Linked DNA regions of Homo sapiens. The protein of the gene in region 1 interacts with the protein of each later gene in a pairwise test. Each region holds a gene or a part of one and is shown on either strand. Other genes may lie near its edges.

The links.
Region 2: the proteins of FADS2 (region 1) and GRSF1 interact in a two-hybrid assay, tested with the Homo sapiens proteins (one study listed by BioGRID).

Annotation. Positions count from the first base shown.
Region 1 is NC_000011.10:61,846,004-61,862,734, reverse strand, and holds part of FADS2 (acyl-CoA 6-desaturase), read right to left. Parts: intron 14,577-16,731; coding exon 14,451-14,576; intron 14,445-14,450; exon of another isoform or gene 13,874-14,444; intron 12,987-13,873; exon of another isoform or gene 12,676-12,986; intron 5,725-12,675; coding exon 5,664-5,724; intron 5,282-5,663; coding exon 5,205-5,281; intron 1-5,204. UniProt on the Homo sapiens protein: Involved in the biosynthesis of highly unsaturated fatty acids (HUFA) from the essential polyunsaturated fatty acids (PUFA) linoleic acid (LA) (18:2n-6) and alpha-linolenic acid (ALA) (18:3n-3) precursors, acting as a fatty acyl-coenzyme A (CoA) desaturase that introduces a cis double bond at carbon 6 of the fatty acyl chain.
Region 2 is NC_000004.12:70,822,891-70,838,377, reverse strand, and holds part of GRSF1 (G-rich sequence factor 1), read left to right. Parts: intron 1-2,063; coding exon 2,064-2,220; intron 2,221-5,104; coding exon 5,105-5,260; intron 5,261-5,927; coding exon 5,928-6,071; intron 6,072-6,703; coding exon 6,704-6,839; intron 6,840-10,341; coding exon 10,342-10,526; intron 10,527-12,132; coding exon 12,133-12,254; intron 12,255-12,946; coding exon 12,947-13,082; intron 13,083-14,009; coding exon 14,010-14,059; 3' UTR 14,060-14,084; intron 14,085-15,487. UniProt on the Homo sapiens protein: Regulator of post-transcriptional mitochondrial gene expression, required for assembly of the mitochondrial ribosome and for recruitment of mRNA and lncRNA. Binds RNAs containing the 14 base G-rich element.

The DNA.
Region 1 (16,731 bases):
GAGAGAAACGGACCCTCCTGCTGAGGGGCAGCCATGGGGTAGGGGTGGGGGTCAGCAGCCCTCTCGTGGGGCAAGGGCGATTCTGAAGGTGCGCCCCCAACCCGGGGCCAGGTCCCCAACCGTCCCCCAGTCCTGTCCCTCCTCCTCAGCACCTGGGTCTCCTCCTGGCATCTCCTTCCAGCAGGACAGAGGGCTTGGAGGGGTAGGGAAGGTCAGAGGTACCATCGTCCCTATCTCAGAGCTCTCACAGCAGAGGCTGGCCTCCCCACGCCCCACTGTCATCCTGTGTCCCTCCACTCTGCTCTCCTCCCTGCCTCTGGCTGGACTGGTGTCAGGGACTGGGCTTGGACGTCTTCTCTCATGTACTGGGAGGGTGACTTCACGGCTCCACCCTGTCCACTGTCTCTCTGCCACCCAAGTCTTGTCTCAACTGGACCACAGCATCAGCTTCCCACAGTCTCCTGCTTGTCCTCGTGGCCATGGCAACCAGAGTGGCCTTCGCTCCAAGCAGGTCCCAACTCTCCCCTGCTAAAGCCCCCATCCCACCCAGTCACCCACGGAGCCTCATGGGGTTAAGAACCTGTCTTTACTCAGCCCCCTGACCTAGCTTACTCCCTCCCCGGGGCCTCTGCATGGCCTGTTCCCACTGCCAGGGCGCTCATCCTGCCATGAGTTTAGGTATGGTGACATGCCACAGGCTCAGCACAGGTGTCCGAGGTGGAAGGTGAGGCCAAGGGACTGCCCTGTCTCACTTCAAACGACTGAAGAACAAGGTCACATTTGTGTCTTAAAATAGATCCCCACCCACTGGAGAGGGGGAGACTAGGAAGTTATTCCAGCGGCTCAGACATGAAATGACAGAGGCCTAAACCAGAACCCACGGCACTGACAAGGAGGTGACAGATTCCAGAACTGTCAGAGGCAACGGTGGCTGCATTTGTGCCTGCTTGGCTGTGGGGAATCTAGGCTGGTCCTAGGTGATCAGGGGTCGGGTGCCAGCAGCTGAACAGGAAAGGAGGAAGGGAGCGCTCAGGAGAGGCTGGAGATGGCCTTGGGGCCAACATTGGCCGAGGGCAGGACCTCACGTTCCAATAAGGTGGCCTTCAAGGTGAGGAGGGAGGCAGATGTAGCCAGTTCTGCTCCCACTTTCCATCACATTCCTTCTATTCTGTGTGTGTGGTGCAATAGTGTGCAGTGTATCTACACATATATGGAAACAAAATGAGGATGGGGTTACGGATTATTTTTTTTTGGAGATGGGATCTTGCTTTATTGCCCAGGCTGGAGTGCAATGGTGTGATCATGACTCTGTCCCAGGCTCAAGCCATACTTCTACCTCAGCCTCCCGAGTAGCTAATTTCTGTTTTTTTTTTTTTTTTTTGAGAGGGAGTCTCGCTCTGTCGCCCAGGCTAGAGTGCAGTGGTGTGATCTTGGCTCACTGCAAGCTCCACCTCCTGGGTTCATACCATTCTCCTGCCTCAGCCTCCCAAGTAGCTGGGTCTACAGGTGCCCGCCACCACGCCCGGATAATTTTTTGTATTTTTAGTGGAGATGGGGTTTCACCGTGTTCGCCAGGATGGTCTCGATCTCCTGACCTTGTGATCCGCCTGCCTCAGGCTCCCAAAGTGCTGGTATTACAGGCATGAGCCACTGTGTCTGGCCTTACCTGGATAATTTTTTTTAAGTTTTTATAGAGATGGGGGGGTCTCACTTACTTGCCCAGGCTGGTCTCGAATGCCTGTGCTCAAGTGATCCTCCAGCCTTGGCCTCCCAAAGTACTAGGATTACAGGTGTGAACCATTGCCCTGGCCCAACTTTTATTTTTAAGAGACAGGGTCTCACTCTGTTGCCCAGGCTTGAGTGCAGTGGTGTGATCACAGCTCACTGCAGCCTCAAACTCCTGGGCTCAAGCCATCCTCCTACCTCAGCCTCCAAAGTAGGTAGATTACAGGCGCGCATCACCACGCCCAGCTTTTTGTAGAGACAGGGTTTCGCCCATGTTGCTCAGGCTGGTCTCAAAACTCCTGGCTTCAGGTGATCCCTCCCACCTCAGCCTCCCAAAGTGCTGAGATCACAGGCGTGAGCCACCATGCCTGGCCTGGACTTCTTTTGAGTGTAGAGAGCAACACATACACAGAGATCGCTGGTTTCAGGGGCAGAGAGCCCAAGAGATCAGAAGCAGCCAAAGAGGCGGAGCGAGGGGGTTGGGAAGAAGCCAGCAGAGGTGGGGACCTGGAAGCCAACAGGAAGAACTGCAAGAGGGAGTGGCCAGTGGTGTCAGATACAGCAAAATTCCAGGAGGGTGAAGCGTGGGAGCATCTCAGGATCCAGGACGTGGCCCCGGGAACAGGGAACCTTGCCAGAGCATGTAAATCTCCCCGGGAAGCCTCCTTCAAAGATCTTAGGGTTTGTCACCTCTTTCCTCTAAGCCAGGGTCCCCCAACCTCCACACTATTGGCACCTGGGACAGGCTGCTTGTTGTCATGGGCGGTTCTCCAGGGCATGGCAGGGTGCTAAGCACCATCCTGGCTAGACGCCCACCAGATGCCAGTAGCACCCTCCTCTCCTGAAGTTGTGACAATTAAAAGTGTCTCCGGATACTGCCAAAGGGCAGAACAGCTCCCCTGAGAACCAGTGCCCCAGGTCATAGGTGCGCTCCTGGCTCTGAAAGCCCCATGGGCTCATCACATTGTCCCCACTCTGCCATCCCCTTTTAGGAACATAGGGTGATTTCTTTTCCTGTTTAATACTTTGTTCCTTAGGGAACAAGCACAGTCAAAAACAAACAAAAAAAAGAAGTTGCTCACTGCAAGCTCCGCCTCCCGGGTTCAAGCAATTCTCCTGCCTCAGCCTCCTGAGTAGCTGGGACTACAGGTGCACACCACCATGCCAGGCTAATTTTTTGTATTTTTAGTAGAGACGGGGTTTCACCATGCTGGCCAGGCTGGTCTCGAACTCCTGACCTCATGATCTGCCCGCCTCGGCCTCTCAAAGTGCTGGGATAACAAGCATGAGTGACTGCGCCCGGCAATAGGCCACTTATGAGTTAGAACGGGATTGGATGCTAGAGGCAAGGAGAGGGTGTAACATGTATAAGGAGGGAAAAAACATAATGGTGCTAGTCTCTAACTTGAGCCACTGGGTGGATGATGGAGCCATTCATTAACATGGAGACCATCAGGATTAGGTTGTGGGAGAAGAGGAGAGGACTTACATTGAATATGTTGGATTTGCAATGGCTGGGACACCTCCAAATGGAGTTAGATTGGATATATGGGTCCAAGACTTGGAGATAAAATTTGACTTGGCTGCTCTTAAATTCACAGTCAGGGTGAAAAGGACAACTTCAGTTAGCAAGCGATAAAACAGTAATCAACAGGCCGGGCGCGGTGGCTCACGCCTGTAATCCCAGCACTTTGGGAGGCTGAGGTGGGCAGATCACCTCAGGTTGGGAGTTTGAGACCAGCCTGACCAACATGGTGAAACCCTGTCTCTGCTAAAAATACAAAATTAGCTGGGCATGGTGGCGCATGCCTGTAATCCCAGCTACTTCGGAGGCTGAGGCAGGAGAATTACTCGAACCCAGGAGGCAGAGGTTTCGGTGAGCCGAGATCACGCCATTGTACTCCAGCCTGGGCAACAAGAGCGAAACTCCACCTCAAAAACAAACAAACAAACAAAAAACAGTAATCAATAAACAAGTCCACATTTGGTTAAGAGAGGAAAAACTTCCCCATGGCTATTGGTTGGAGCATGAGGGACAAATAGACTGCTGAGAAAGACTGGATTTTAAGCAAGCATTTCAGAAAGTGACAATTTAGTCTTTGATAATTTTCAGATAAACAATTTATCTGCCGGGTGCAGTGGCTCACGCCTGTAATCCCAGCACTTTGGGAGGCCAAGGCGGGTGGATCACGAGTCAAGAGTTCGAGACCAGCCTGGCCAACATGGTGAAACCCCATCACTACTAAAAATACAAAAATTAGCCAGGCATGGTGGCCGGCGCCTGTACTCCCAGCTACTCAGGAGGTTGAGGCAGGAGAATCGCTTGAACCCAGGAGGCGGAGGTTGCAGTGAGCCGAGATCGCACCACTGCACTCCAGCCTGGGCGACAGAGCGAAACACCATCTCAAAAAAAAAAGATGACGTAATTACAATGGGCCCTAATGCAATATGACCAATGTCCCTATTTTAAAAAAAAGGAAAAATTTTCAAGAATCCACTTTTGGTGAAGAAAAAAAGAAAATTAAAAAATAGGCCAGGCGTGGTGGCTCATGCCTGTAATCTCAGCACTTTGTGAGGCTGAGGCGGGCAGATCACTTGAGGCCAGGAGTTCGAGACCAGCCTCGCCAACATGGAAAAACCCCATCTCTACTAAAAATACAAAAATTAGCTGGGCATGGTGGCCGGTGCCTGTAATCCCAGGTACTTGGGAGGCTGAGTCACAAGAATTGCTTGCACCCAGGAGGTAGAGGTTGCAGTTGAGTCGAGATCACACCACTGCACTCCAGCCTATGTGACTCTGTCTCAATAAATAAACAAATAAACAAAATAATTTTTTTAAAGAGGGATATTTGGACACAGATACAGATACAAATATGCAGAGAGATGATGTACCGAGAGGGAGGACGAAAGCCATCAACCAGCCGATGAGAGGCCCAGAACAGAGCCTTCCAGAGCCCTAAGGAATCCACCCTGCTAACACCTCAGTTTTGGACTTCCGGTCTCCAGAACCGGGAGAAAACACATCGCTGCTGCTTATGCCACTCAGTTCGTGGTGCTTTGTCATACGGTCTTCGCAAACGACCACACCTGTCATCTCAGCCAACGCCCAGCTGCTCCAACTTCAAACCAGGGTGTGGGGCAACCCAGTTCATGGGACTCAGGGCCCACAGGGAGCGGGGAAGGGAGATGGCCACACTTGCCTCTCATCCTGCTGCCTTTGAGAACTTTCTCGGGGGCTCTGCAAAAGCAGGGGCTGCCCCAGTGGACTCCCTATGTCTGAGGGAGAGTAGAGATCTTTAGGACTAGGTCCTGGTGGCCCCAGAGGGAGTCCTTTCCTGAGAGGCAGCTACCCCAGGGAGGAGATGCCTGGGGCCCCACAGGCTCCACTGGGGCACACGAGGAGGCAGCGTAGGACCCCCGGGTCCCCCTGTCCCAGTCACCCTCCTCCCCATGCCAAGCCAGCTGTGTCCCCAACTCACCACCCAGTTCTTATGGACGATCATGGTCATGATGATCTGGTACTGGAAATACATGGGGATGAGCAGCGGCGGCCCAACTGCAGGAGAGAGACAGGCGCTTAGAGGCATCCATTCCACCCTGCCTGTGCCGGAAGGTCAGGGGAACCCAGGCCCAGCACTGAGTGCAGGGGCCAGCCCTGCAGACGTGGGCAGAAGCAGCCAGGGACCCCGGGGCCTGCAGAGAAGGCTGGGAGCCCTTGAGGACGTGTGTCACCCCTGGGACTCTCTGAGCCTCTGTGTCCCCATCAGGCCTGTAACACAGGCTGAGGGGTCTGCACAGCAAGGCTGCTGTGGCCCCCGCTTCTAACAAGTTTAGTGTCACTTTCTGGATCTGAAAAAGATGTCAGGTAGGAGGGAGAGACACGCCACTCTGGGGGGAGGGGAGGGTCCCAGAGTGATTTCGGGGCGCCGAGCACTCACTCAGGAAGAAGTATTCGTGCTGGTGATTGTAGGGCAGGTATTTCAGCTTCTTCTTGCCGTACTGAGGAGAGAGGAGAGATCATGAGCACCCAGTAGCCTCAGCTCCCAGCCTCCCATGTTCCCCAACCCATCCTGCAGCCACCATCCCTTCTATCTGCTCAGGGCACACCACTGTCCCTTTCCTGTCAATCTGCACCCTGGGCCCACCAAGCCTGGGGCCCCTCCAGCCCTCTGGGCTCCCCATGCTACAGCCAGCAGCGGCCAACGCTTCCTCAGCCCTAGCCGAGCACTGGCCCGATGGCATCGATCCTCTACAAGGCCGGCACTTCTGAGGCTGAGGCTCAGCGTTAAGCCATGGCCCAAGGCCACAGGAAGTGGCCCTGACTGGGATCAGAACCCAAAAAGCTGACTCTGAGCCCATGTGACAGGCACTAAACAAATGTTTGTTGAATGAATGTGCAACAGAGCAACTCTCGGCGGAGCATAAGCACCCAGGGGAGTTCCTAGGTCACCATGGAGAGCTCCCGGAGCCCGCAGTGGCAGGGAGAACCTAGGTAAGGGCCCCAGAATTGCTGCCAGTCATCAGGCTGGGAGCATCTGCCTCCCTGGAGCCTCCCTGTAATTTACAAGAGTGAATCACTCCTCCCCAGCTGGAGCCTAACCTTGAGGACAGAGGAGGCCACAGCACAGACTCCTCAGGCCACATCTGGCTACCTGAGGTCCCCATGACGGCACCGGTTTCTTCCCCATCAGAGCCTGCACCTTGGGCAGCCTGATGCCCAGAGGCTCTAATGGAGGAGGGCTGGGCTGGGTCCTGGGCATCGTCATTGTCCAATGCCAGGCATAGGAACCACGGCCCCAGGGGATCCCTGGAGCCCTTAATTCCATGGTCCAGCCCCTAGGGACCAGCCCACCCTGCACTTCCAGGACTGAGACCAAAAGATGCCGCTCACTGAGTGACACCTGCTCCTCTCCCTTGCAGTGTGGGGAGGCTGGGCTTGCAGCCAGCAGATGCGCTTGAGCCGACTCTGCCTCTCACCAGTGCTGAGACTATGTGAGTCGCTTAGCCTTGCTGAGCCTTGTCTGGCATTTGAATCAGTGGTTGGTAAGAGGAGCCAATGAGAACATGGGCATAATGCCAAGTGCTGACCCCAGGACACTGCCCGTCACCCTCCCTATACCCCTGGATCCGAAGGCCAGAGATGCCTCCTCCTATAGTGTCCAGTCATACTTATTGCAGTCAGGAGGTCAAAGTGAGTTACAGAGGGAAGGGACCTTGGATGATGCCTAGGCCAGTGCCCCTCTCATCCAGGTGAGTAAAATGATTGTCCAAATCACAGGGAGAGCATGGATTCCTGAGGGAAGAGGCTGTGGGTGGGAACCAGGTCCACCCTGTCCCCAAGGCTTGCATCTTGGCGCCAATGGCCATGGTCACGGCACAACCAGCTGAAGAACCCCCAGAAACAGTCCCTTTGTTCTGTGTGGCCTCCTGAGCCTTGGCAAGGATCTCACTCATTCCCAGAAAGGACGGCCACTTGCAGGAAGACTATTATTAAGGCCAGGGCTGAGGCCGGCCATGGAGAGGTCCGAGCCAGGGAGGCCTCACAGGAGCCTTTCATGAGTCTCCAGTGGACGGAGTTGCTGGAGGAGCCAGCACTGCAGACGTTGCTCTCGAGGTGGCCAGTCTCGGGGCCTGCAGTGGCCCACAGAACAGGCCCCTGAGTCCTGCTCTAAGCTTCTCCCAGAGGCCAGGGAGCAGGCTCATAGCCCCAGCCTTGGCATGCAGTGTCTCCAGCTCTGCTCAAGAGCTCCTCCCCACCGCATCTCTGTCCCACAGAGCATCCCATCCCTCTCGGGCTGGGCCGGCTGTACTCGGAAGTGAGCACAGAGGGCAACCCAGGCAGGTCAGCAGGGGCCAGGGCATCCTATGGAGGGACTGAGGGCTGGCCACGCTGTTGTGGGGGCCTGGGAGGCACCTGGGGAGTCTGTTTGGAGCTGCATGTGCACAGTAGGCACCCTGTTCTCATGGGTGATGGTGGCCTGTGGGTGGACAACACAGGTTACAGGGGCTGCCTCTGCTGGTAAGCACTGCTGGCTTTAGTGTGCGTCCCTTCAATGCCCCAGAATGACCCTCGGGAGCCAGGGGGTCCTGCTTGCCAGGCAGCAGCAGGCCTCAGAGTGGGCCTCTGTGGGACGGTGAGCAAAATGCTCATCACAGTCACGCACGTGTATGTACATGCGTATGGTGACATACCACTACACATCTGTGCCCATCTCGATGGCCTCAGCTGCAGCGGCTCTGCTGGGGGATGGCCAATACTCCCCTCCCAAACCAGAAAGTACAACTGTGGGTTTGGGATACGAAGCCCTGCCCTGTGGCTAACTCTCTGCTCTCATCTTTCCCACGCTCAGTTCTTTGCCAGAGCTTTGCCGTTTAAGTCATGGGACCAGGGAAGGGAGGGAGAGGTATTTTAGAATGTAGCAAGCTAGGGGGGTGAGTGCCTGGCTGTTTAATTGATCAGAAAGCTGGGGCTACCCAACAAACATATTTCACAAGGGCCCCCAGGACTCCGAAGCTGTGGTTTGCAGCCAGATGGTTTGGGTTCGGACAGTGGTGTTGCCTTTTCCTTGCTGTTACCTTGAACAAGTCACTTCATGTCTCTTGGCCTTAGCTGTTCCATCCATGAAATGGGTCGATGACAGCTCCCGCCTCACGGGTTAAGCAAGGATTAAGTGACGTTGTGCACGCACACTGCCCATCACAGTGCCCGGTCCACAGACTCACTCAACAAGAGTCAGGCTTCTTCCCAACTGGGGGCTCAGAGCCCCAAGTGTGGGGAGTGGAGGACCCCACACATCTCCTCCTCCAGAGGAGTCCCCGTCACACACACAGAGAAAGCCCAAGAGGCAAGGAAGACACATGACTTTCACCTGGCTGGGCTGCGGCCAAGGGTGTGGGTGGCACACATGGACCTCCCCCTGATCAGCAACAGTGCCTTCCCAGGCTGCGGTTGACAGGCAGAGACGCAGGCCAGGGGCAAGGGAGGGAGTGCAGCCAGCCCTGGCGGCGGGGCTGACTCTCCTGTCCTCGGCCTCTCCATGCACCTCAAGGCCAGGCTTGGATGAGGGCCTGGGGGATGCCGGGCCATGTGGAGGGGACCTTTCAGCTTTGGAACAAAATGTCTGAGGAATGACAAGGGCCCTCCTTGTCCATCGAGGGTTGGGGGAGGGGAGCTGTCGCAAAGCCCAGTCTCTGCCTCTGGGAACCTGCAAACTCACACACAGAGAGAAACAGGCGGCACGACCTCCCCAGCAGGAGCAGAATGGCAAGGTCCCAGTCCAAGGTCCCCGAGAGGGCGGCATGTGTGTCCCAAGGCGGGATGGGTGGCTTAAGCCTGTTCATGAAGGTCTGCCTCAAGCAGGAAGCCCAGGAGGTTAGCTTCAGACAGTCAGAGCAGCAGAGGTGGTTTCCCGGATGGGAGGAGGAGGAGGATCTCAGGCACCGCACGGCTTCTGAGGCCCCTTTACACTGCTACCGGGATAATGGTCTCACCAGCCCCCTCAGAAAACGGGGATATGGCAAAAGAAGAACAAAACAAGGCTGCTGCCAATATCACCGCTATTAAACTCAGCTCTGAAATTTCCCGTCAATGCAATAAAACCCAAAGCAGAAAACAGAGTGGAGCTATTAGAAAGAAAGAGACTACTTCAACATCCAGATTAGAAAGAAAGAAGGAAAGGAAGGAAGGAAGGAAGGAAGGAAGGAAGGAAGGAAGGAAGGGAGGGAGGGAGGGAAGGGAGGGAGGGAGAGAAAGAAAGAGAGAGAGAAAGAAAGAAAGAGAAGAAAGAAAGAGTGACTACACTTTTTTTCTGTTTGTTTTGTTTTGTTTTGTTGTTGTTGTTGTTGTTGTTGTTTTGAGACGGAGTCTCACTCTGTCGCCCAGGCTGGAGTGCAGTGGTGCTATCTCAGCTCACTGCAACCTCCGCCTCCCAGGTTCAAGCGATTCTCTTGCCTCAGCCTCCAGAGTAGCCGAGACTACAGGCGTGTGCCACCATGCCCAGCTAATTTTTTGTATTTTTAGTAGAGACGGTGGTTTCATTGTGTTAGCCAAGATGGTCTCGATCTCCTGACCTCGTGATCCGCCAGCCTCGGCCTCCCAAAGTGCTGGGATTACAGATGTGAGCCACCACGCTGGGCCGAGAGACTACGTTTTCATTATTTTCTAGGATATGATCATCTACCCAGGAAACTCAAAAGAATCAACCGAAACACAACTAGAATTACGAAGAGACGTAAGTGGACACTAGCGGGACAAAAGATAACTATCCCATTCATTGGAAGGCCATGCAAACAAAAATTTAGAAAAAAAAGAAAATTAAGATAACTACCCCAATATCCACTGCTTTCCCGAGTACTGGAGAACCTCCAATCATAATGACAAAATATAAAACATATAAGGATTGCGTTTTAAAAGAAACATCCATGAGACATATAAAGAAGTACAGACCTTGGCCGGGCACAGTGGCTCATGCCTGTAATCCCAGCACTTTGGGAAGCTGAGGTAGGCGGATCACTTGAGGTCAGGAGTTCGAGACCAGCCTGGCCAACATGGTGAAACCCCATCTCTACTAAAAATACAAGAATTAGCCGGGCATGGTGGCGGGTGCCTGTAGTCCCAGCTACTCGGGAGGCTGAGGCAGAACGATGGCTTGAGCCCAGGAGGTTGAGGCTGCAGTGAACCGAGATTGCGCCACTACGCTCTAGCCAAGGTGACAGAGCATGACCTTGTCTCAAAAACAAAAACAAAAACAAAAAGAGAGAGAAAGAGAAGGGGAAAGGCACCCCACTACGAGCTTCCAATGAGTTAAGTGCCAAGGATGAATGAGTGTGAGTGTGGCCCCCAAGTCATCCAGACGGTGGCCTGGGAGAGGACAGACAGCCCAGCCCAGGCCAAGCCCGGGCTCAGGAGCACTCACTGCCTCATATGAAGAAGCAATGCCACCTCATGGGGGTGCCGGGAAAACTGGCCGACTCTGGAGAAAAGTGAAGGCCGAACATCATCCTACCCATATCCCATTTGGCAGAAGTTAAAGATTGAAACACAAAACCTTAAAGAACTGAAAATAATATGTATGAAGAACTTTCTAAGCACACAAGAAATGAATCTCTGGGTAAAGTGAATATACTTTGCTACATATGACAAAAAGAATCCTCCTGGACAGCATCAATAAGACCAAAATGCAGAAAACGAGGAAAAGGGCTTTACTGCGGAGCCCGCGCTATTCACAGTTCCACGTGCTGGGAGCCGCTTGGCAGGGCTGCTTTGCTTATCTGTCCCCAGAGATAGAAGCCCTGGCCGGCATCCTTGCTCTGGAGACTGGGATGGTGGCTTGAGGCCCTGGGACCTGGCCGCCCCACCTGGCCCTGCTGTGGTGTGTGGGACTGGCATGTGACAAGTCCCATCAGACCCACTGTCACTTCAGTCAAGAGACCAGGGTTCCTTCCAGGGCGGCCGGGTCCTGCGAGAGCCAGAGCACAGGTCAAAACACCAGGAACCCAGGAAGCACCAATCCTTTCCCCATGAGTGTGAGAGCGGGGATTTCCACAGAACACCGCGGCACTGGCTGGGGACTTCCAAACGCCGCTGGTAACTGAACAACCAGATCCTCACAGCCTCCCACCCCTATCTCCTGCCCCAAAGCCAGCGTTCCAGAAGTGTCGGGGGTGAGAAGATGTCGGGAAAGGAGAGGCTTCTCTGGCCACCACGCACAAGAAAGACGCCTTCTTGCCAGTGCAGCTGGTGGGACTAGACTTTCTTTGTTGGAGACACAGAGAACATCTGTCAGGACAGCCAACGGCTCTACATTACAAAGCCTCGCCGAGAAAATGAAGCCTTTGTCCCCACTTATCAGAGGGCCTCAAGTTCATCAGTTCTGTTTTCTAGACACCTCTAATTAAAGCTGGCAAACTGTTTCCTAGAAGAATAACAATAGCCTGTACTTTGGCAGAAAATGGAATCCCTGGCAGCTTAGAGAGGCTTCCAAAGTACAGAACTGTGGCTGATTTCCTGCGAATTGGCCATGTTACAGAAAAATCCACGTTCCTGCTCAGATAGTCTCACGGGTGGAAATGAAATAAGAAGAGGGTGTACAAACCAGAACTGGGGAGCCAGGCTGTCTCCTCGCCTTGTTCCAAGCCTTAGGCGCCAAGGCTGTCGGGAATACTACTTCACTCACGGTGCCACTCCTTAGTGAGGGAAAATTGGCCTCACTTGGCAGATGCTGATTGAACCCTACTCTATGCATGGCTTTGTGGCTCCTAAGATCTGCATAAAAGCAACAAGGATCTTCTAAACTTTCATTTTAATCATTAATGTATTTCCAAAAAGCAGCGCATATATTTATTTTTTTCTTCTAAATTAGGTCCCGACATAGAGGCTCTACATAAAAAAAAAGAATGTATTAAATAAGAACATTTTTTTGTGGAACGCATTGGTGGGGCTTTTATTCAAAAGAAATTATGGGCCAGGCGCGGTGGCTTACACCCGTAATCCCAGCACTTTGGGAGGGCGAGGTGGGCGGATCACGAAGTCAGGAGTTCAAGACCAGCCTGGCCAACATGGTGAAACCCCGTCTCTACTAAAAATGAGAAAATTAGCCAGGCGTGGTGGTGTGCACCTGTAATCCCATCTACTCGGGAGGCTGAGGCAGGAGAATCACTTGAACCTGGGAGGTGGAGGTTGCAGTGAGCCAAGATCGTGCCACTGCACTCTAGACTGGGCAAGAGAGTAAGACTCTGTCTCAAAAAAAAAAGAAAAGAAAAGAAAAGAAAGAAATTATGAACTACTGACACTCAATTTGTCTACCATATAAAATAATGTAGGTCCTGTTATGGTTCAGAAGTACAACAGAATACCATATGGCTAGAGGGAGACGAGACCTGTCTACATGAACTGGGGGGGAAGGGCATCCACATTCGCAGAGGTGGCAAGTTGCAGGATACAAGGTAGAATTTTTTTGTTTTTTATTTTTTTATTTTTGAGACAGAGTCTCCCTCTTCTGTCCCCGCTGGAGTGCAGTGGTGCAATCATAGCTCATTGCAGCCTTGAGGCTCCCAGGCTCAAGTGATTCCCCCACCTCAGCCTCCCCTGCACCTGGGACCACAGACGCACACCACTACACCTGGCTAATCTTTTGTATTTTTCGCAGAGATGGGGTCTCACTATGTAGCCCAGGCTGGTCTTGAACTCCTGGGCTCAAGCACTTCTCCCACTTCAGCCTCCCAAAGCGCTGGGATTACAGGTGTGAGCCACCACAGCTGGCCTAAAATTTTTGTTTGTAAAGAAACAGATATATGCATGTTTATACACATATAAAAATATCTAGAAGACTGTATAGCATCTTGTTAACAGTGGTTACCCTCAAGGGCATAAAATTTGGGGCAAAGGGGAGGTTTGAGAGACTCACTTTTTTTTTCTTTTTTGAGACATAGCTTTGCTCTGTTACCCAGGCTGGAGTGCAGTGGTGTGATCATAGCTCACTGTAGCCTCAACCTCCTGGGCTCAGCTCAAGGGATCCACCCACCTCAGCCTCCCCAATAACTGAGACTAGGCACGTGCTACCATGCCTGGCTAACTAAAAAAATATGTATTTTTTTAGAGACAGGGTCTTGCTATATTGCCCAGGCTGAGACTCGTGTTTTAATTCTGGATATTTCTGTACTGTTTAGAAGTTTATACCAAGTGTGTTCTATATTTGTAGTAATAAAATGAACTAATATGAAAATAAAATGGTATAGTAAATGGAAGGCAATGGCCTAGCAGTCCAAAGGTCTGGGGCCTCACCCTAGACTGGCCACTAAATTACGTGACTCTCTCGGCTGGGCACGTTGGCTCATGCCTGTAATACCAGCACTTTGGGAAGCCGAGGCAGGCAGATCATGAGGTCAGGAGTTTGAGACCAGCCTGGCCATGGTGAAACCCTGTCTCTACTAAAAATACAAAAATTAGTTGGCATGGTGGCACATGCCTGTAATCCCAGCTACGTGGGAGGCGGAGGCAGGAGAATTGCTTGAACCCAGGAGGCGGAGGTTGCAGTGAGCCAAGATTGTGCCACTGCACTCCAGCTCTGGGCAACAGAGCAAGACTCCGTCTCAGAAAAAAAACTAAATAAATTATGTGACCCTGAACGTGTTCCATCCTCTCGCTGACCTTCAATTTCTTATCCACTGGTGAAGCAGATTGGACCAAGCCACGTTGAGGCTCCTCCCAGTGTACAGGATGATGATTCTCCAAATAAGGTTTTCTCAACATGAGCTAGTCGGTTGGCGACCAAGCTTGAGCCCCTGAAATCTTGCCTTCCTGCTGAACTGGAACAAGATTTCCCTCTACCCTGGGAAAAAACAAGCCAGAAAATGCCCTTCCTGGCCTAAGGGTAGGAGGGAGACATCTACCATTCTAATGAGGAGCTGTGTCTGTATTTACAGGTGAGGCCATTCCACATACATTCCAGCCAGAACAATTCAGGGTACCTAGGAGAGGTATCTGTGTAGCAGGAGATGTGGACCTGCCTGGCTGAATGTCAGCTCTCTAGGCTTCCTTCCCTGCTCCCTGCTCAGGCCAAACACTTCCTAGGTCAACACCAACCCCTTAGTCGTACCTCGATGGCTGCCATTCGCCCAGGCCAAACACTTCCTAGGTCAACACCATCTCCTTAGTTGTACCTCGATGGTCTGCCATTCGCCCAGGACAAACACTTCCTAGGTCAACACCATCCTCTTAGTCGTACCTCGATGGGCTGCCATTCGCCCAGAACAAACACGTGCAGCATGTTCACATCGGGATCCTTGTGGAAGATGTTAGGCTTGGCGTGGTGCTGGAAGTGGCGATGATTCCACCAGTTGGCAGAGGCACCCTGTGGGGAGAGAGGGGTGGGGATGAGCCATGCAAGCCACCAGGGAACCGAGCTCGCTTGTAACAGGCCCTTCTTAGGAGCAGTTCCCGGAACCTTCAACCCTCGGGGATAGCACTTCAGGCCCCCACAAGGCCAGAATCCAGCCCTGCCATGACTGAGCTCAGAGCATGCGCCAGCCCCAGATGGAGTGAAGTCACTTTATCTCTCTAGGCTTCAGTTTCCCTGATCATAAGACGATGGTGGCAGATGAGGCGTGCTGCTGAGGGACCACACGGTGAGCGCTCCAGCAGGTGTGGCAGCCAGTCTCTGCCTCTCCGTCACCAGGTGTGGAACCAGAGCTGTGCAAGGTAAAGCCGAGGTTTCAGGGACAGTGAGAAGTGGTCCCTACTATGTGGCCCAGAAATCTCCCTCCTGAGCGTATATCCAAGAGAAATGAAAACATGTCCACACACCAACTCATAGAGCAGTGTTCACAGCAGCATTCTTCAAAAGAACCAGAAGAGCAAAAGCAACACAAATGTTCATCAACAGATGAGTGGGTGAATGAAATGCAGATTATCCACACAGTGGAATATCATTTGGCTGTGCCGTAAAACAGAACGAATCACTGACCCTTGCTACAACACGGATGAGCCTGGAGAACATGCTAAGGGAAGGAAGGAGCCACAAAAGACCACATATCACATGATTCCACCGACATGAAACGCCCAGAATAGGGAAATCTATAGAGACAGAAAGCTGAGCAGTTGTGTAGGGCTAGGATTGGGGTAGGGGAGGGAGTGAGGGGGTTGGGATGTGATGGCTAAGAAACGTGGGGTTTCTTTTGAGCATCATGAAGATGCTCTAAAATCGACTATGATGATGGTTGCATAAATCTGTGAATATACCAAAAGTCATTGATTTGTCTACTTTAAATGGGAAAACTGGCTGGGCGTGGTGGCTCACACCTGTAATTCCAGCACTTTGGGAGACAGAAGCGGGTGGATCACTTGAGGTCAGGAGTTTGAGACCAGCCTGGGCAACATGGTGAAACCCCGCCTCTACTAAAAATACAAAAATTAGCCGGGCGTGGTTGTGGGCGCCTGTAATCCCAGCTACTCGGGAGGCTGAGGCAGGAAAATCACTTGAACCCGGGAGGCAGAGATCACACCACTGCACTCCAGCCTGGGAGACAGAGCAAGACTCTGTTTAAAAAAAAAAAAAAGTGAGAACTGTATCTCAATAAACGATTTGGAGAGCGCAGTTGTGCTGCTATGCTGAGGGTGGGTCCTGAGATTCGTGTCACACCAGGAAGGCTGGAGGGAGGGCTCAACAAACAACTGCTAACATGAACAAGAAGAACTTTCCTGTTTCTAACACTCAAATAGGATCCCATGAGACAAGACACATAACATGGATATTTCTTTTGAGGCCACAGGTGTCCGTCTCCTCAGCTCAGAGTTATGGCCCTCGACAGTTGCCCAGCGACAGATGAAAGAAAACACACTTTCCTGACCCTTTGGCATCACGACTATCCTGGTGAACTGTTGCCGGATCAATGCTTTGGCTAAGGGTTTGCAAAAAATGCCTATTTGCTAAACAAACATTTTACTTGGGAGATGCTTTTGGCACACACAGTCTATGGACACTAATAGCCATGGGTGGGAACAGCAACGGACAGCTGTGGCCTTTGCAGTAACCTCAGGGCCCTGGAAACTGGCAGGCCTCAAAACCCATGAGAGAGAGAGAGAGAGAGAAAAAAAAAAAAAAAGTCAGAGAGTGAAAGCTCAGAGGCTTCACTTTGGGAGGCTGAAGCGTGTGGATCACTTGAGGTCAGGCGTTCAAGGCCAGCCTGGCCAACACGGAGAAACCCCGTCTCTACTAAAACTACAAAAATTATCTGGGCGTGGTGGCGGGCACCTGTAATCCCAACTACTCAGGAGTCTGAGGCAGGAGAATCCTGTGAACCCAGGAGGCCAAGATCATACCAACTTCACTTTAGCCTGAGCAACAGAGCAAGAGTCTGTCTCAAAAAAAAAAAAAAAAAAGAAAAGAAAGAAAGAAAGCTTAGAGGCTCGAGGAATCAAATGACACATTTGCGTTTGTTGTCAAAAGGAACAAAATTCCTGGGAAGAATCAAATGGAAAAATCTCTGGCACAAAGAAACTGAGGAGCA
Region 2 (15,487 bases), on another chromosome or scaffold:
CAAAACCATCTCCAGTAAACCTTTGTGAGCTAGCTTCTCTCTTTTTTTTTCTATGAAATTGACTGCGGTGATATCTGTAGAGCATCTACTATGTGTTAGACACTGCTTACATTTATTCCTTAAAACTAAACATTAAGCCTTTTTTTTTTTTTTTTTTTGGAGACCGAGTCTCGCTCTGTCGCCCAGGCTGGAGTGCAGTGGAATGATCTCGGCTCACTGCAAGCTCCGCCTTCCGGGTTCACGCCATTCTCCTGCTTCAGCCTCCCGAGTAGCTGGGACTACAGGCGCCCGCCACTGCGCCCAGCTAATTTTTTGTATTTTTAGTAGAGACGGGGTTTCACCGTGGTCTCGATCTCCTGACCTCGTGATCCGCCCGCCTCTGCCTCCCAAAGTGCTGGGATTACAGGCGTGAGCCACCGCGCCCGGCCTAACATTAAGCCTTAATGAAAATTATAGATAGGGCTGGGCGCGGCACTTTGGGAGGCTGCGGCGGGTGGATCACCTGAGGTCAGGAGTTCGATAGCAGGCTAACCAACATGGTGAAACTCCGTGTCTACTAAAAAAATGCAAAAAAATTAGCCGGGCGGGGTGGCGGGCGCCTGTAATCCCAGCTACCCGGGAGGCTGAGGCAGGAGAATCCTTTGAACCCGGGGAGGTTGCAGTGAGCCGAGATTGTGCCATTATACTCTAGTCTGGGCGACAAGAGCGAAACTCCGTCTCAAGAAAAAAGAAAAGAAAAGAAAATGACAGATAGTAGAAAGATATCTCTGTCCTTAGTCCGGTAGAGTGCAAGTCTTTTTTTTTTTTTTTTTTTGAGACGGAGTCTTGCTCTGTTGCCCATGCTGGAGTGAAATGCCGAGATCTCAGCTCACTGAAACCTCTACCTCCCGGGTTCAGGCGATTATCCTGCCTCAGCCTCCCGAGTAGCTGGGATTACGGGCACACGCCACCACACCCGGCTCATTTTTTGTATTTTTAGTAGAGATGGGGTTTTGCCATGTTGGCCAGGCTGGTCTTGAACTCCTGACCTCGTGATTCGCCCACCTCGGCCTCCCAAGGTGCTGGGATTACAGGCGTGAGCCACCGCACCTGGCCCAGTAGAGTGCAAGTCTTAAAGCCTGAGTTGTCTTCTTAGGTTATGGTTGTAGTGCTTCGTGGATTCTTACTAAATTCCAGTTTTACTTAATCCGATAAAAGAGACTTTACAAGTCTGTAGCCTCACACTGCTGCCGTTGTCTTTAAGATCTTTCCCTTAATCACTTGGTCTGGCATACCAGCTGACAGAGGAATATTCCCAAGGCGTCCTGCTGTCTTGTTGATTTACCCAGTCCTCAGTGTCTTGTATTAACTTATCTTTGCCTACCAAGTGAAGGACACACATTGAGCTCCACACTCAAGGCCCTCTGCTCTATGGTACCAACCTCTTTTGCCAGGTCACCTTCTTTGGCTCCTAATTTAAACAGTTGGAATTAATTGCTGTTATTCAAATGGGCATTTGGTCGTACTGCTTCTTTCTCTCGCCTTCAAACTGGAATACCCTATCTTTTATATCCTCATAAAAATTCTATCCTTCCTTCAAGGCCCATCTCATGTCACATCCTGATTCATCTGTTAGTGCTCTGATTTGAATTCCTGTAGTATTTTGTATCTTAATTATAGCACTCAGTATCTCATCTTGTATGCTTATCGTATTCTAGATAGCTATTTCAGATGAGGGCGGCAAACACTGTGTGTAGGGGCAATCAAATATTTGTCAAATTGTCAGGACCTTTCTTGTGTTGCCTTAACTACACTATTGTTAGCTATAATTTGGGGTTGATGAATTTTAAAACAAACCCTGAATGAAATTTGTGTCCTGCCAAACCTTTAGGATATACCTGCTTATGGCTTTTGGATGTACAATTTAAGCCAAAACAGGATGGGTTACATTGGTGAAGTTTACTTTTTGCTTCTGAAATAACATCTAGAATGTTAGTTTGTAGAATAAACATTTTCTAAGAATTTTTTTACATTTTTTACCTGTAAATGCAACTCTTTTTACAATTCTTCATTTCCTTTGGAAGGAGTCCAAAACTACTTACCTGGAAGACCTTCCACCACCCCCTGAGTATGAATTGGCCCCGTCCAAGTTAGAAGAGGAAGTGGATGATGTCTTTCTCATTCGAGCTCAAGGACTGCCCTGGTCATGCACTATGGAAGATGTGCTTAACTTTTTTTCAGGTATATTTTATGTATGTTTTATTTATTTATTTTTTTTCCTTATATTGTTTCTCACAAGCAGGTATGTATGTTTTAAGTATGTAATTTTGTCTGAGTAAAAGGTAGTGCTACAAATCCATGTCAGACTACGCTGTCACCTTCCTTTTTGATGGTTGGGAACTGTCTCATTCTGGTTGGTTGCATATACCAAATGATACCATGTGTGCTGTTTGCGGTATGTAACGAATTGAAAGACTTTGGGCCAGGGGCAGTGGCTCAGGCCTGTAATCAGCAGTTTGGGAGGCCAAGGTGGAAGGATGGCTTGAGGCCAGTAGTTCCATACCACACTGGGCAACACTGTGAGACTGTCTCAATTTACATATGTATAAAGACTTTGAATGCAACAAAAGTATTTTAACGTTAAGACTGCATAGTATGGGCCAGGCGCAGTGGCTCACGCCTGTAATCCCAGCACTTTGGGAGGCCGAGGCGGGCGGATCACAAGCTCAGGAGATCGAGACCATCCTGGCTAACATAGTGAAACCCCGTCTCTACTAAAAATACAAAAATTACCCAGGCTTGTAGTCCCAGCTACTTGGGAGGCTGAGGCAGGAGAATGGTGTGAATCCGGGAGGTGGAGCTTGCAGTGAGCCGAGATGGTGCCACTGCATTCCAGCCTGGGCGACAGAGTGAGACTCTGTCTCAAAAAAAAAAAAAAATCCATCATACTATGTAGGTTTTTTTTTTTTTGAGACGGAGTCTCGCTCTGTCGCCAGGCTGGAGTGCAGTGGCATGATCTCAGCTCACTGCAAGCTCCGCCTCCCGGGTTCACACCATTCTCCTGCCTCAGCCTCCCTAGTAGCGACTGCCACCACACCCAGTTAATTTTTTGTATTTTTAGTAGAGCTGGGGTTTCACCGTGTTAGCCAGGATGATCTCAATCTCCTGACCTTGTGATCTGCCTGCCTCGGCTTCCCACAGTGCTGGGATTACAGGCGTGAGCCACCGTGCCCGGCTGGTATGATGGAATACTACGTAGCCATAACAAAGAGTGAGATTATGTGCTTTGCAGCAATGTGGGTGGTGCTGGAGACCATTATCCTAAGCAAACTAACATGGAACATTAAACTTAATACTGTATGTTTTCACTTACAAGTGGGAGCTAAACAATGAGAACACATGGACACAAAGAGGGGAACAAGAAGACACCAGGGCCAACTTGAGGGTTGGGGAGAAGATTAAAAAATACCTATCGGGTCCAAGTGCGGTGGCTCACGCCTGTAATCCCAGCACTTTGGGAGGCCGAGGCGGGCGGATCACGAGGTCAGGAGATCGAGACCATCCTGGCTAACATGTTGAAACCCCATCTCTCCTAAAAATACAAAAAAAATTAGCCGGGCGTGGTGGCACGCTCCCGTAGTCCCAGCTACCTGGGAGGCTGAGGCAGGAGAATCGCTTGAATCTGGGAGGCGGAGGTTGCAGTGAGCTGAGTTCACACCACTGTACTCCAGCCGTGGTGACAGAGAGAGACTCTGTCTCAAAAAGAAAAATAAAACCTATTGGGTACTGTGCTTGCTACCTGGGTAACTAAATTATCTGTATACCGAACTCCCATAACACATGGTTTACCTATGTAGCAGTCCTATACATGTACTAAATAAAAGTTGAAAAACAAAATTACATGGTTTGAAATTATTTTTCTCTGTGGTATTAATATATACATATCAAAAAGTCAAGCCTGTCAGTGGAAATATGGAATTAAGGGTGACTCTTTATGTAATACAGACATTTACAATAGAAGGTCACTTAGTATCAAGGAATAAAGTTCCCTTAATAACATGTTTGGAGGGTTTACATATCTGTGGGATTTTTTTTTTTAGTTTCTGTATCTGACTATGATTTATTTTTATTAATTTTTTTGAGATGGAGTCTTGCTCTGTCACCCAGGCTGGAGTGCAGTAGCGCAATCTCGGCTCATTGCAACCTCCACCTCCCGGGTTCAAGGGATTCTCCTGCCTCAGCCTCCTGAGTTGGTGGGACAGCAGGCACCTATCACCATGCCCGGCTAATTTTTGTATTTTTAGTAGAGACAGGGTTTTGCCGTGTTGGCCAGGTTGGTCTCAAACTCCTGACCTCAGGTGATCCACCACCTTGGCCTCCCAAAGGGCTGGGATTACAGGCATGAACCACCATGCCTGGCTATTTCATTAATTTTTTTAGCTGCTCCTTGTGGAGCAGGAGTAAATCCTAGGCAGTATGCCCAGAGTGAGCCTGGTCAAACTTTTTTTTAAAGCCACTTGGCCACTTACATCTTGGACTACTCCCATTATAAAAAGTATGCAGTATGAAAAGGGGAAAAAGGCTGGGTGTGGTGGCTGATGCCTGTAATCCCAGCACTTTGGGAGACTAAGGTGGGAGGATTACTTAAGCCCAAGAGTTCAAGACCAGCCTGTGCAACAAAATGAGACCGCCTCTCTACAAAAACAAAAAGTTAAACTATGGTAATAAAATTACTCATACAGGAAATATTTTAGAGACCTATGGAGATGATTTTAAAGGAAGACACTTATGTATAAATTTAACTATATTGTATTTCCTTAAGTGATTGTAGAAACATTGCAATAGAAATAATGAATTTTGTGTTGGGCCTATCCTGATTTGCTATTTAATGATCAGGAAGGAGATCATAAGCTTCTGTGCTAAGGTTTGCTTATCTTTTCTACTTGGAAGGTTTTAGAGACTAAATCCTTATTGGTGTTTGGATGACTTCAGTGATGGGGATTTGTGTAAGGAATATGACACTTGTTTCCTGCTTTGTTGTTGGAAAACTGCATTCTTGTGACTTACATAATTGAGCTAAAAGTTTGATTTCTGTTTTCAATTGATTTTGCTCATACACTTTTAGACTGCAGAATCCGCAACGGTGAGAATGGAATACATTTTCTCCTAAACAGAGATGGGAAACGAAGGGGTGATGCCTTAATTGAAATGGAGTCAGAGCAGGATGTGCAGAAAGCCTTAGAGAAGCACCGCATGTACATGGGCCAGCGGTATGTGGAAGGTATGTGAAGTCAGATTATGGCTTTTTGGGATCATTGCATTAGGTTTTATACTTTTCAAGGTAGTTTTTATTTGATCCTTAATAATGAAGTATTTAGATTGTATGAATGCATTCTTTTATAGGATGTGAAAATAAAACATAAAGAGATAAAGTTTCTTTTTTTTGTGGGGGGGATGGAATCTCACTCTGTCACCCAGGCTGGAGTGCAGTGGTGCGATTTCAGCTCACTGCAACCTCTGCCTCCTGGGTTCAAGCAATTCTCCTGTCTCAGCCTCCCAAGTAGCTGGGACTACAGGCACATGCCATGATACCCAGCTAATTTTTGTATTTTTATTAGAGATGGGGTTTTACCATATTGGTCAGGCTGGTCTCAAACTCCTGACCTCAGGTAATCCACCCGCCTTGGCCTCCCAAAGTTCTGGGATTATAGGCGTGAGCCAGTGTGCCTGGCCAATGAAGTATCTTACAAGCTGTGAGAAATAAAGAAGTTATGCCCGCATGGTAAATATGCAATAAATGTCATTTGTTATTTTCTCTAGAGAAGCGCATAAAGATTAAAATAGTTATTGAATTCTCAGATAACCCAGCAAGTTGTAATGATTTTTTTTAATGGGTTTGTTCCTTTGTTATGTAAATTTTTCATCCCTGTTGGGTTTTTTCTTCGTAGTATATGAGATAAACAATGAAGATGTGGATGCCTTAATGAAGAGCTTGCAGGTCAAATCTTCGCCTGTGGTAAATGATGGTGTGGTTCGTTTGAGAGGACTTCCTTATAGTTGCAATGAGAAAGACATTGTAGACTTCTTTGCAGGTACTTTGCAGTTGTATTATGCTTGGGAGCTCATATCTTTTTTCCCTTGGTATCTCCTTCTATATCTTAGATGAGCCTGTTTCTGGGCAAAGGCATGCAGTTATATTAGGTTCTTTAGGGGAGAGCTCTTCACTTAAATTTCTAATATTTATAGATTTTATATGTGTTTTTGTTCTATCAGGCAGATTTTAGGAGGGAAGTCAGATTTCAGAATAATTTCATGAGGGTTTTACTATTGAAGGAAATAACTTCTCATAATAGTTGCTGTATTTGTGTAAGACAATAACAATTTATATAATTTAAAAGTATTTTCTAATTCCTAGAACCATTAGCAGTGAAGTCTGTGATTTCTATTGTTTCCTAGTATATAATTAACAGCAAAAAAAAAAAAAAAAACTGGTGGGGAGAATTGTATGTTTTGGGTGGGCTTCTTGGACCTTACCTATTCTGGAAATACAAGTATGTAGGTGTTGACTGACTTTTGACTGCATAATAATTTTCTTCCTGTCAAGCATGTATTCAGTTTTGGGACTGGCAAAACAGAATAAAAATTTTATTAGTATGTGAATGATGGTGTTAATTCTAAGGATAAAAAAGCCTGCTAGTAGCATTAAAATCTCTTGGTGTCCTAGGACTGAATATAGTTGACATTACTTTTGTGATGGACTATAGAGGGAGGCGAAAAACAGGGGAAGCCTATGTGCAATTTGAAGAACCAGAAATGGCCAACCAAGCCCTGTTGAAACACAGGGAAGAAATTGGTAATCGGTGAGTAAAGCAGATACTAATGATGCAGAAGTGTTACACATTAAGTCATTTTGATGAATGTGCTGTAATATGACTGAAAAGTTATCCAAACATAGAAAAGTAGAGAGAGTAGTGTAGTGAGCCATCAAATGCCCATAATTTAGATTAACAATTTTTTTTCGACTGCTCCTTTTTTTTTTTTTTGAGACAGAGTTTCACTCTTTTTGCCTAGGCTAGAGTGCAATGGCACGATCTTGGCTCACTGCAACCTCTGCCTCCCTGGTTTAAGCGATTCTCCTGCCTCAGCCTCCCAAGTAGCTGGGATTACAGGCGCCTGCCACCATGCCCGGCTTTTTTTGTATTTTTAGTAGAGACGGGGTTTCACCATGTTGGCCAGGGTGGTCTCGATCTCTCGACCTTGTGATCCGCCCGCCTCGGCCTCCCAAAGTGCTGGGATTACAGGCGTGAGCCACCGCATCCGGCTTGACTGCTCCTTGTGGGGCAGGGACTAACCCATAGACAGAGTACCTAGAGCAGCTAGATTAACACATTTATATATAAAATGTAACATCTGTTATATTTGCTTCATCTGGGTTTTTTTTAGTATGCATCTTTTAAAAAAATTTTTTTACATAATTTCAATGTTATATCTAACACTGTTAGCAATAGTATATTATCTAATAACAGTTCATAATAGCATTTTCCCAATTATACCAAAAATAGCCTTTTTTTTTTTGGCAACGGAGTTTCACTCTGCCGCCTAGGCTGGAGTGCGGTGGTGTGATCTTGGCTCACTGCATCCTCTCTCTGCCTCCCAGTTTCATGTGATCCTCCTGCCTCAGCCTCCTGAGTAGCTGGAACTAGAGGCATGCGCCACCATGCCCAGCTAAGTTTTGTATTTTTAGTAGAGACAAGGTTTTACCATGTTGGCCAGGCTGGTCTAGAACTCCCGGACTCAAGTCATTCACCCACCTCGGCCTCCAAAAGTGCTGGGATTACAGGTGTGAGCCAGCACACCGGACAAAAATACAGAATCCAGATAAGGTCTACACACTGCATTTGATTGTTATGTCCATAATTCTCTGTGTGTGTGTGTGTTTTTTTTTTTTTTTTAAGACACAGGGTCTTATTCTGTCACCCAGGCTGGAGTGCAGTGGCATGATGATAGCTCACTACAGCCTTGAATTCCTGGGCTCAAGCAATCGTCTCGCCTCATCCTCCCAACTAGCTAGAACAATAGGCATGTGCCGCCACACCTGGCTGTGTGTATGTGTGTGTGCGTGCGTGCGTGTGTGTTTGTAGGTGGGGTCTTGCTGTGTTGCCCTGGCTGGCCTCAAACTCATGGGCTCAAGTGATCGCCCGCTTTGGCTTCCCAAAACGCTAGGATTACAGGTGTGAGCCACTGCACCTGACCACTGATTCTCTTGAACTAGAGCAAATCCCCCTTACTTATTCTTCCCCCCTTTTTAAAAGCAATTGACTTTTGAAGAAATTAGATCAGTTGTCTTGTACAGTATCTCATGTTGACATCACCTCAGGATGCACATGATGATAAGTGGGTTCATTTGTGTTTTAACTTTAACTTTGGAGGTACAGTTTAAAATGTCAAATGTTAAATCACTGTTTCGTTAATTTTTTTTTTTACTGTTTTCTGGCCTTTTAAATCAGCTCCTTTGAAGTAAACAAAACAGCCATTCCAAAGCCAGTGTTTCAGGATCTACTGATAGAAGTGGTTCAAAGGTTTTTTGGTTTTTTGAGACAGGATCTTGCTCTGTCACCCAGGCTGAAGTGCAGTGCCACAAACACTGCTCATTTCAGCCTTGACCTTCTGGGCTCAAGCAGTCCTGCCATCTCAGCTTTCCTTGTAGCTGGTACCACAGGCATGCATCACCATGCCTGGCTAATTTTAGACAGAGTCTTATTCTGTTACCCTCGCTGGAGTGCAGTTGTGTGATACAGCTCACTGCAGTTGTGGCCTCCTGGGCTCAAGCAATCCTCCCACTTCAGCCTCCCAAGTAGCTGGGACTACAGATACATGCCACCACACCCAGCTAATTTTTGTATTTTTGTAGAGACGGGGTTTTGCATGTTGCCCAAGCTGGTCTCACACTCCTGAGCTCAAGTGATCCACCTGCCTCAGCCTCCCAAAGTACTGGGATTATAGGTGTGAGCCACTGTACCTGGTCTCCTGGCTAATTAAAAAAAAAAACAAAAAAAAACTTTTGTAGAGATGGTGTCTCACTTTGTTGTCCAGGCTCAAAGGTTTTTTTTTTAAAGAAGTAGTGCTCATCTAATCTTTATAGATTTGTAAACACAAGCTAGTTTTATAACTCTTAGTTTAGAAGGCCATGTTAAGAAAAAGGAAACTGTGCTGGGCGCGGTGGCCCATGCCTATAATCCCAGCACTTTGGGAGGCCGAAGTGGGAGGATCACTTGAGCCCAGGAGTTCAAGAGCAACTTGGGCAACATGGCAAGAACCCATGTCTACAAAAATAAAAAATAAAAAAATTAGCAGTGTGTGGGCTGGGCATGGTGGCTCATGCCTATAATCCCAGCACTTTGGGAGGCTGAGGCAGGTGAATCACCTGAGGTCTGGAGTTTGAGACCAGCCTGGCCAACATAGTGAAACCCTGTCTCTACTAAAAATACAAAAAATCAGCTGGGCGTGGTGGCGGGCGCCTGTAATTCCAGCTACTCAGGAGGCTGAGGCAGGAGAACTGCTTGAACCCAGGAGGCAGAGGTTGCAGTGAGCCAAGATCGTGCCATTGCACTCCAGCCTGGGCAACAAAAGCAAAACTCTGCTTCAAAAAAAAAAAAAAAAAATTAGCAGTGTGTGGTGGCAGGTGGCAGTAGTCCCCAGCTACTCAGGAGGCTGAGGCAGGAGGATCACTTGAGCCTAGGAGGTTGAGGCTGCAGTGAGCCATGTTCACACCACTGCACACCATCTTGGGTGACAGCAAGAAACCCAAGTTTCAAAAAAAAAAATTGTTCCAGAAGCTTGGGTTTAATAGATAGTCCCCTCCTGTGATAGCAAGTCATAATTGATACTTAGTTCTTGAATTCTCAGCCTTTTAGTGAAGTTCTGGGGAAGTTAGCTCTTCTTTTACTGTGACTTTTAATATCTTATACAGATATGATTAATTTGCACAGAATTGAATTTCAGAGCTTCAAGAGATTGTTAACCAGCAATTTAAAAAACCCTTATGAGATTAATTTTTTCTGTATACACAATTAACTTAAGCATAGTTGTTCTCATGAAGCAAAACAGAGTAGAAAATATTATTAAAATGTATGTGAAGAAAAAGTGTTACCTTGATGCAAAAACTTAAATCAGTGACCTACTCTGTTGTATATTTTCATGGGCTACTATCTGTATGCATTATTAGTTTTCCCTACCTGTTATCTTTTGACACCTGTGTTTCATAAGCTGTTGGAAATATAATGTATACATGTTTATTTTAAATGAGTTCAGTATAAAGTTACTTTGCACCATTTGTGCCTGTTTACTTTTGCTTTGACATAGATACATCGAGATATTTCCAAGCAGAAGGAATGAAGTTCGAACACATGTCGGTTCTTATAAGGGAAAGAAAATCGCATCTTTTCCTACTGCTAAGTATATAACTGAGCCAGAAATGGTCTTTGAAGAACATGAAGTAAATGAGGATATTCAACCCATGACAGCTTTTGAAAGTGAGAAGGAAATAGGTAAGGTCCTGCCTCTTCTTGAGACTCATTGGGTCTATCTTGAATGTTTTGGGTTTTGTGATTTTTTTTTTTTTGAGATGAAGTCTCGCTCTGTTGCCAGGCTGGAGTGCAGTGGTGCGATCTCGGCTGACTGCAGCCTCTACCTCCTGGGTTCAAGTGATTCTCCTGCCTCAGCCTCTTTGAGTAGCTGGGACTACAGGCGCATGCCGCCACGCGCAGCCAATTTTTATATTTTTAGTAGAGATAGGGTTTCGCCACGTTGGCCAGGCTGGTCTGGAACTCTTGACCTCAAGTGAGCCGCAGCCTCCTAAAGTGCTGGGATTACAGGTGTGAGCCAACACACCCGGCCTAAAGATTTAATAGGACTTTACATACTTTGAGTATATGCAGAAAGGCTTAATTATTTTGCTAGGTTTTTAATTTAATCATTTTTATTAACTATATCAAAAGCTGGGTAGTAAAAATGTGATAAAAGGAAGTAAGATGTCAACATTTAAATTAAGATGGGGGAAGATTTGGATAATGAGCAGGAATATTGACTGAAGTAAGGATTTTTTTTTTTTTGAGACAGAGTTTCACTCTGTTGCCCAGGCTGGAGTGCAGTGGCGCACTCTCGGCTCACTGCAGGTTCCGCCTCCCAGGTTCACGCCATCATCCTGCCTCAGCCTCCCGAGTAGCTGGGACTACAGGCGCCTGCCACCGTGCCCGGCTAATTTTTATATTTTTAGTAGAGACGGGGTTTCCCCGTGTTGGCCAGGCTGGCGTTGAACTACTGACCTCAGGTGATCTGCCGGCCTCTGCTTCCCAAAGTGCTGGGATTACAGGCATGAGCCACTGTGCCCGCCTGAAGTAAGGATTTTTGTTTGCTTCTGGATTTAATTATTTCTTTGATTCCTAACCCAGGGCAACATTTGGAATCTTTTAAGTTTCATAAATACTTTTTAAACTGGTACCCTGGGATTATCTTGTCACTATATATATGTGTATATATATTTTTGTTTTTTGAGACAAAGTCTTGTTCTGTGGCCCATTCTGGAGTGCAGTGGCACAATCATGGCTCACTGCAACCTTGAACTCCTGGGCTCAGGCAGTTCTTCCACCCCAGCCTCCTGAGTAGCTGGAACTATAGGCATGCATCACCATGCCCAGCTAACTTATTTTTATTTTTATTTTTTGTAGAGACAGTGTCTGGCTGTGTTGCCCAGGCTGGTCTCGAACTCCTGGGCTCAAGTGATTCTCCTGCTTCAGCCTTCCAAAGTGTTGGGATTACAAGTGTGAGCTACCACGCCCAGCCTTTGTTCTTTTTTTTTTTTTTCAGTGCCTATAATCTAGAAAGTCTCTTTTAGGGTTTAATTCATAATCATTTTACCTGCTCTCTGATGTTACAAAAAGGGCTAAGTTCTTAAACTGGTAATGGTCTGAGGCATTCAGTGCTTATGGGTGTTCAGGTGATATTTGTTGAGTGGCAGAAATTTCAGATCATTTTGGCTTTTAATGCTCTTAAGAGGAATTGAGGATTTGGACATAAAAGTCATACCTAATTAGAATCTGTTAATAACCCTTGAAGCTGTTATGTTTTAACAGTGCTTTCTGTTCCACCTCTCAGAATTGCCTAAGGAGGTGCCAGAAAAGCTTCCAGAGGCTGCTGATTTTGGAACTACGTCTTCTCTGCATTTTGTCCACATGAGAGGATTACCTTTCCAAGCCAATGCCCAAGACATTATAAACGTGTGTGGCAGTAAGATATCCAATCTCAATAGATTTGAACAAAAGTTCTAAAATTGAACTTGTATTAATTTGGGGAAGGTAGAGAAGAAAATATAGTGTTTCTGCGTTGGATAGTAAGATGGCATCTTCCTGGTTGCAAAGCTTGCTTCTTTTTCTGTAGCTGAAAAGTGTGGCTTGGTATTACTTTTTTTTGTGACAGAGTCTCGCTCTGTCGCCCAGGCTGGAGTGCAGTGGAGTGAACTTGGCTCACTGCAACCTCTGCCTCCCGGGTTCAAGCATTTCTTCCGCCTTGGTCTACCGAGTAGCTGGGATTACAGGCAGGCGCCACCATGCCCGGCTAATTTTAGTATTTTCAGTAGAGATGGGGTTTCACCATGTTGGCCAGGCTGGTTTTGATCTCCTGACCTCAAGCGATCCACTGTCCTCGGCCTCCCAAAGTGTTGAGATTACAGGTGTGAGCCACCATGCTCGCTGAGAGCAGATATTTGAAATGTCACTTTGAGTTCTGAGAAAAAGTAAAAAGCCAGAAGACATACTAGATATATAAATATATTACTGCTTAAAAAGATTTCCTAAAAAGAAATGTATCAAGTGTATGAATCAAAGTCTGAAAGAAAGATGAAGAGCCACCAGACTTCTAGGTAGGTTTACATCCATCATGTTCCTCTTGACTGCCTTTGTTTGTCGTTTAGTTTTTTGCTCCACTCAAGCCTGTTAGAATCACCATGGAATACAGCTCCAGTGGGAAGGCCACTGGAGAAGCTGATGTGCACTTTGAGACCCATGAGGATGCTGTTGCAGCGATGCTCAAGGATCGGTCCCACGTTCGTAAGTCCTGCCTTTGGCTTTTGTTGTCATTTTTGATGCTTGTCTTTGCTTACAAATATCTTTTTCTGTTTTGGGATTGTAGAATTTTTCCTTGAGAAATTTGTATTCTTTTAGTACTAGTAAATTAAACGTAACAGATAAAACACTATATTATAATTTAAAAAATTTTGTCTGCTAATTATCCTGCAAATCTCTTTCTTTCTTTTTTTTTTGTCACCCACGCTGGAGTGCAGCGGTGCCATCTCGGCTCACCGCAGTCTCAGCCTCCTGTGTTCAAGCAATTCTCCTGCCTCAGCCACCTGAGTAGCTGGGATTACAGGTGCCTGGCACCGTGCCTGACTAATTTTTCTATTTTTAGTAGACACAGGTTTCGCCATGTTGGCCAGGCTGGTCTCGAACTCCTGGGTTCAAATGGTCCACCTGCCTCGACCTCCCAAAGTGCCGGGATTACAGGCATGAGCCACCGCATCCAGCCTGTTTGTCCATTTTACATTTTGTTTGTTTGTGGTTGTTTGAGACGGAGTCTTGTCTGTCGCCCAGTCTGTAGTGCAGTGGTATGATCTCAGCTCACTGCAACCTCCGCCTCCTGGGTTCAAGTGATTGTCCTGCCACAGCCTCCCGAGTAGCTGGGACTATAGGCACCCACCACCACACTGGCTAATTTTTGTATTTTTAGTAGAGATGGGGTTTCGCTACATTGGCCAGGCTGGCTTGAACTCCTTACCTCAGGTGATCCTCCCACTTCGGCTTCCCAAAGTACTGGGATTACAATAGGCGTGAGCCACCGTGTCTGGCCTAAATTTTGTTTTTAATTAGGGAAAGGAAAGGGCAAAGGGTTTGAGTTGCTGTCTGAACTGTGAGAAAAATGGCTGTAATATTTTTCTACCTTTTCAACTTTTTAAAACTAATCTTTCTCATTATCCTCAGATCATAGGTATATTGAACTGTTCCTGAATTCATGTCCAAAAGGAAAATAAGACTCTAGGGGCTCCAGATAATAAGGTAAATTTAAGAGGTAATACTGTGGGCTGGGTGCAGTGGCTCACACCTGTAATCCCAGTACTTTGGGAGGCCAAGGTGGGCGGACCACCTGAGGTCAGGAGTTCAAGCCAGCCTGGCCAACATGGTGAAACCCTGTCTCTACTAAAAATACAAAAATTAACCGAGCATGATGGTGGGTGCCTGTAATTCCAGCTACTCAGGAGGCTGAAGCGGGAGAATCACTTGAACCCGGGAGGCAGCGGTTGCAGTGAGCTGAGATTGTGCCACTGCACTCCAGCCTGGGCAACAGAGCGAGACTCAAAAAAAAAAAAAAAAAAGAGAGAGATACAACTGTGGAAATTATTTGCTATTGATAAACTAATAATCATTCACTCACTAATTTGTAATATGGTAGAAACCATTCTCTTTTTATTTTTCAAATTTTTTTAGGGACTAGGTCTTGCTCTGTTGCCCAGGCTAGCAGTGGTGCGATCATAGCTCACTGCAGCTTCAACCTTCTGGGCTCAGGTGATTCTCTCACTTCAGCCTCCCAAGTAGCTGGGACTACAGGTGTGTACTACCATGCCTACCTAATTTTTTAATTTTTTGTAGAGATGGGGTCTCACTATGTTGCCCAGGCTGGCCTTGAACTTCTGGCCTTAAGTGATCCTGCTGCCTTTGCCTCCCAAAGTGTTGGAATTACAAGAGTGAGCCACCCCGCCTGGCACCATTCCTTTTTAATAAAGATCAAACTAATGATAATTGAAGTGTCAATATAAGGAATGAAAATTCTCGCTCTGGCTTCTCAGATGTGGGGGGCAAAAAAAAAAAAAGAAAATTCTGCTGGGAAATAGAATTAATTATGATATTTTTTCATTTTTTTTAAATTTTATTTTATTTATTTATTTATTTTTTGTGAGATGGAGTTTCACTCTTGTTGCCCAGGCTGGAGTGCAATGGCTCGATCTCCACTCACTGCAACTTCCACCTCCCGGGTTCAAGAGATTCTCCTGCCTCAGCCTCCCAAGTAGCTGGGATTACAGGCATGCACCACCACGCCCAGCTAATTTTTGTATTTTTAGTAGAGACGGGGTTTCTCCATGTTGGTCATGGCTGGTCTTGAACTCCTGACCTCAGGTGATCCGCCTGCCTCGGCCTCCCAAAGTGCTGGGATTACAGGCGTGAGCCACTGTGTCCGGCCTACTTTTTATTTTTTTTGAGACAGAGTCTTGCTTTGTTGAGCAGACTAGATTGCAGTGATGCAGTCTGGGCTCACTGCAAACTCCGCCTCCTGGGTTCAAGTGATTCTCCTGCCTCAGTCTCCCGAGTAGCTGGGACTGCAGGTGCCCGCCACAATGCCTGGCTAATTTTTTTGTATTTTTAGTAGAGATGAGGTTTCACCATGTTGGCCAGGCTCATCTTGA